Linked DNA regions of Homo sapiens: region 2 is linked to region 1. Evidence: fine-mapped expression QTL. A gene starts in region 1. The other region holds a variant in brackets. All regions are shown on one strand. Distances are between the middles of the regions.

What was found. PIP is the estimated chance that this variant, and not a neighbour inherited with it, causes the effect.
Region 2: its variant is the best candidate, but not a certain one, in a credible set for the expression of PITPNB in tibial nerve (GTEx, PIP 0.71).

What each region holds. Positions count from the first base shown.
Region 1 is chr22:27,917,846-27,920,345 of GRCh38, reverse strand. PITPNB (phosphatidylinositol transfer protein beta) reads left to right here and starts at 1,090. Exons shown (of 12, transcript NM_012399.5): 1 at 1,090-1,174. The coding sequence starts at 1,155. TTC28-AS1 (TTC28 antisense RNA 1) reads right to left here and starts at 970. Exons shown (of 5, transcript NR_026963.1): 1 at 801-970. RefSeq lists enhancers at 570-749, 1-904, 905-1,890 and silencers at 1,060-1,129, 1,320-1,639.
Region 2 is chr22:27,891,644-27,894,663 of GRCh38, reverse strand. It overlaps PITPNB (phosphatidylinositol transfer protein beta), which reads left to right. Exons shown (of 12, transcript NM_012399.5): 7 at 26-109. Among named protein-coding and RNA genes, the nearest start is that of PITPNB, 26 kb to the left of the region's middle. The variant G/A (reference allele first, on the strand shown) is at 1,274.

The DNA of each region.
Region 1 (2,500 bases):
CCAGTTGGTCCCAGCTCATTTCCCACCCTCACTTAGGATGTTCTGGCCACATCTGCCCTCTAGCTGATCCTTGAACACCCTAGGCTTACTCCATCCTCGGGTCATATTTCCCTCCAACTGGAATGCCCCTCTCACATCCTAACAGGCTAGGCTCAAACACCGCCTCCTAAGACAGCCCTTGTCTTGAGTCCTCTGCTTCTCCCAGTACTCCACTGTATTCATAGCATAGCACTTCCCCACCACCCCAAATTCTCCCTGCTTTCTTTCCAAGTGAGTTGTCTCCTCTAGACTGTGAGCTTCTTGAGAACAGGGACTGTGTCTGCTTCTAGATGCATCCCCACTGCCTAGAACCGTGTCTGACACAGAGCAAGCCAGCGACCTCCGGGCTGCGGCTTTGAGGCCCACGGCGCTTTCGGTGTAACTGCGCGAACCAACTCCTGAACAGCCCGCTTTCCTGGGTCTCGAGGCCAAGGGCCTCTTTTCTCCCAGAGGGCCTCCGTCGGGAGTGCTGGCCGCTCATCCTGCCGAGTCACAGGTGAGGTTTAGGATTCTCCGCCGCGGTGGACCTCCACGAGACCGCGAAGCAGGTGAACGTCCTCCCGCGGAACCTGAGCTGCCAAGGGCTGGGGAGGGGAACAGAAGCTGGCGTCGGCTGCCTCCAGAACCTGTCAGGAGTCTTTTATGTGGACTATGGAGGTGAGGTGTCGGTCAAGGAGGTGGGCCCTGACTCGGAGCAGTGAGAGAGAGCAGAAAACCAGTCACCGCAAAACGGCTTCCAAAGAACCAACTGGAAAACTCACCGGAAAGCGTAGGCTGCCCAGACGCCCCGAGGGACCAAAGCTGAAGGGAGGAGCCCTCGTAAGCAGACAAGAGTGCGCGCGTCGAGCTTGCGCAGCCGCAGTAGAAGCCGCACGCTCTTCGGCAGGCTGCGCAACCGCAGTGGAGGCCTCGTGTGCCCGGGGTGGGGCACGAAACTGGGCGGAGCTAGGCCCCCTCGCGCGCTGACGCGACTGGTCGCGGCGGAAGGGTGTAAGCACGCAGGCGCGATGGTGGCTCGGGGGGGCAGGGAGGCGGGGCCGCGCAGGCGCTGTGAGAGGCGGTAGCGGCGGCGGCGGCGGTGGTATCGGCGGCAGCTGTGAGGGGGTTCCGGGAAGATGGTGCTGATCAAGGAATTGTGAGTGGGTCTGTGGGCGCGAGCGAGGCCGTGGGACGGCAGTGATGGGAGATTTGTTGATGGAGAAGTGGTAGGATATTCCTAAATCGGAGTCAGCCCTGTGTCAGCCCCTCCCTGCGGGCGCCCCCTCCCTCCCCCGGCCCCTTCGAAGCCCCTCAGCGAGTGCGCCCCTCGGCCCTCCAGGCATTGCCGTGGTAACACGCCCTCTCCCTTCCCCGGGGCGAAGGCGGCTGGGTCCCGGCCCGAGCGCATGGCTCGGGAAGGCGCGGCCGGGAGTTTCCGCTGGGACCCGCCTTCTCCCCAACCCCCCACCCCCAGGCTGGGTCTGGGCCCACCCCCAGGCCCGCCGGTGGGAAGGAGCCGCAGTCCGAGGGTGGGAGAGACACGTTGGTTCTGACTGTGATTTGTCGTCCGGGGTGGAGTCCCCTGGTAACCAGCGGGAGATGGGCTTGCCGGTTGAAGGCAGCCCTCGTGTCAGGACTCGCGGTGGGACGCTGGCGCCTTGAAGTTCGTGGTGGAGCCGGGATTCCGGAAAGCCTCCGCTCTCCTGGGCAGCTCCGCTGACTTGACGGGAGAGCCTTTTCTCTTTTTGGTTTCCGCATGTTTTAAGATGAGGTGACATCCCGGGCCCCACCTACTTTCTTAGAAGTTAACACGTGCTCTGTCAAATGGAGGGATTTCGAGGTGCATCCGACTGGCCAAGTGATTTTGTTGAAAAGTCACGGCTTTTCCTACTGGCAAGGACTGTAAACATTACGGAAATCTGCTTGCCTCTGAATGTTCGTCTGTCACAGCTGGTTCGTGTCGTCAGCATCCTTTGGGCAGCTAGGGAGGTCGAGTATGGCCCATTCGTTGGTTTTCAAATTCTTCATTTTAAATTCTTAGAAATATTTTTGGCTTAATTTAGCTTTTTTCAGACACCTTATTTTTAGTGTTCTTAAACCTCCTTTAAAAAGTCACTGATGCACTTCTCTGAGACTTAATACCTCCCAAAGACTCCCTGTCTCACCCAGAATAAAAGTCAAAGCCTCTGCAACAGCTACAAGGCTTTACACTTTTTTTTCCTGCCCTGATCTCATTTACTACCTTTTCCTTGCCCATTCCATCTTCGCAAGCTTCCTTGCTGTTCCTCTGCTACTCTAGAATAAGTTCAGTTCAAGACCTTTCCACCTGCTTTTGTTCCCTTTGCTTGAAGTGTTCTTCCCTTGGCACACTAACTCACCTTCTTCCAGGTCTTTGCTCAGACGTCACCTTCTCAGGGAATCCCTTTCTGAAGACCTAATTGTAGTTCCCACTATTTGGGGTGGTATTTGTCTTCCCTGCTTT
Region 2 (3,020 bases), 26 kb after region 1:
TTTCTTTTCTCTTTGTCATTGGTAGGTACATGGTTTAGATCCAAACACATGGAAAACTGTTGAAATTGTCCATATAGATATTGCAGATAGAAGTCAAGTTGAACCAGCAGTAAGTATTACTCAATGACATTTAATCTGTTCCCTTTTACAGTTAAAAATTATTTTCTACTATCACATTTGGGATTAAGTTAAAAAAATTATTTCCTTTCTTTCTTGTATGGCCTACATTTCTATGCCGAAGTGAGCTTGGAGTGAAGTCTAGTACGTCTGTGCAGCAAAGAGACCAGAGTAAGAGAGAAGGCGATTTGTTTTCTGTGTAGATTTTGGCTTTGTGCAAGTGATCCCTTTAAGAAATCCCAGTATACCTGGGAAATGTAGGTTGTTTTCATTGAAAAACAAAAAACACATTGTTTACAAAATAATTCTCCCTCCAGCTAGGTCCCTTTTACTTTTCAAATGTGATTAAGAAAGCAAAAATTTAATTTGCATACAAGTATTTAGTAACTCAGCTACAGTTGTTATTTGTGGAAAATGGTTGGTGTAGAGTATCTTTTTAAAAATGTTCTTTTAGATTCCAGAAGTAGGTGTAGAGTATTTTAATTTAATAGTTGTTTAGCTTTCTATTTTGAATCCTATTAAGATGTAAATATTTCTACTCCTGGCTTTTGACTTAATAAAAAAATTTCTTTTTCACAAGTAAAGATGCTTATTCCTCATGCCAGATTAAGACTCAAGATAAAGATTATATATGTAAGCATAATAGAATAATCTTAGGCTGGACACAGTGGCTTCCACTTGTAATCCCAACACTTTGGAAGGCCAAGGAGGGAGGATTGCTTGAGCACAGGAGCTTGAGACCAGCCTGGACAACATAGTGAGATCCTGTCTCTAAAAAGAAAAAAACGATTAGCTGGGCATGGTGGCATGTGCCTGTAATTCCAGCTACATGAGGAGGCTTAGACAGGAGGATTACTTGAGTCCAGAAATTTGAGGTTGCAGTGAGCCGTGATCGTACCACTGCACCCCAGCCAGGGTGACAGAGCGAGATCCTAGCTCAAAAAAAAAAAAAAAAAAAAAAAAAGGCTAGACATGGTGGCTCAAGCCTGTAATCCCAGCACTTTGGGAGGCTGAGGCAGGAAGATCACGAGGTCAGGAGATCGAGACCATCCTGGCTAACATGGTGAAACCCCTTCTCTACTAAAAATACAAAAAATTAGCCGGTATGGTGGTGGGCGCCTATAGTCCCAGCTACTCGGGAGGCTGAGGCAGGAGA[G/A]TGGCATGAGCCCGGGAGGCGGAGCTTGCAGTGAGCCGAGATCGCGCCACTGCACTCCAGCCTGGACAACAGAGCGAGACTCCGTCTCAAAAAAAAAAAAAAAGGAAAAAACAGACCCCTGTCTCATCTTGCCAAAGTTTATGAATATTAATGTGGTTCTTACTTTATAGTGTGCTAAGTGCTGCTTTGGTTTTACACAGCATGTGTAAATACAAGCACTGGTCCTCTTCCTCTAATCTAGAGAGCTAAAGCTTTGGAATAAGAGTGGTACCCTTTGTTTTGTCGTGGTCAAGCACGGTATGTTCAGTAGGCGTCCCTTTCCATTTCTATTTTTGGTGCTTATTCCCTGAACTTGAGCAGTGTTGTAAGTGAAACAGAAATAAGTCAAACGCTAAATGTCTGGTTTTGCTGTTGAAATTTAAAGGTAAACTTGCCTGAACAAAGGTCCCCGACCTTTTCTCAGATGTCACTGGGGTTGAGACTGCCAGCAGTGACCCAGTGCCAGGCTGGGCCAACTCTGCTAGGGCCCCCTTCCTGCTTAGAAGTGTGAGCACTGATAAGGGACTTTTGTTCTAGAAGTTCTTAAATTTTAGTTTTGCTGTGATTCGAAGTTGTTTCAATTTTAGGGATATTTCCACCTTTGACATTATATAGGGAGTTTTTCAATCTGTAGAAATGAAATGATATATCTGTTATGCCCTTTTATTTCTCTTGGTATTGTTTACAGCTAAGATTTACTATATGTGAAAGAATGATGGGAAGAGAAGTAATTGGGAGTAATGAGTGAGTTAGTTAATGACTAGGTCAGGACAGCTTACAAGCCTGGAGCTGCCCATCACTAAAATACCAAGCAGCAGTATGCCACACCAGGATCGGGTGCCCTGGGGAAGGCATTCCCATTATGTTGTTGGTGTTTGAAAATGCTATAATGACCAAACAAAATGGCTCGACTGACTCAGACTTATGGTCCATAGGTTTGCAGTCTACGTTGTTCACCAGCAGAGTACAAGATACCTTTGGTTTTGCTGGAGGCATAAAAATTCTTTGTTCCTGTCCTCAGGCGAAAATGGGCAGTGTTTACAGGCATGAATGCTGGTGGAAAGAGCAGAGTAAGGGCAGATTGCACAAGAACCGTGGAGGCCCTGGTTCCCATCACCTCCACCTCAGCACAGACTTCAGAGAGGAGAGGAGGCACTGGATGCATGACAGCAGCACTTGAGATAGGTGCTCCAGGTGGAAGGCACTGCACATGCAAAGGCTGAGTAGGTAGTTCTCTGTGTGAAAATGGTGATGTTTGGGGTGGATAGCTAGTGAAAAAGACTGGATTGAGCCCAAGTGAGGAGGATCTGTGTTGTGAGGTATGGAGCTTTGACTAAAAACATACATTCTAAAACTAGGTGGGCTTCAGATTTCCATTCTGAGGCTCTGCCACCTACTGGCTATTTAATCTTGGACAAGTTGGTTAGCCTCTCTTTGCCTGTATTATCTTGTGTAAAATGAGAGTAATTATAAGATTAAATGTGAGCACTTAAGAGTATATTAGTCTGTTTCATACTGCTGTAAAGATACTACCCATGACTGGGTAATTTATAATGGAAAGAGGTTTAATTCACTCACAGTTCTGCATGGCTGGGGAGGCCTTGGGAAACTTACAGTCATGGTGGAAGGGGAATCAGGCACGTTTTACATGGCGGCAGGAGAGAGAGGAGGAGGAAGGAGGAACTCCTAAACAGATCTTGTGAGAACT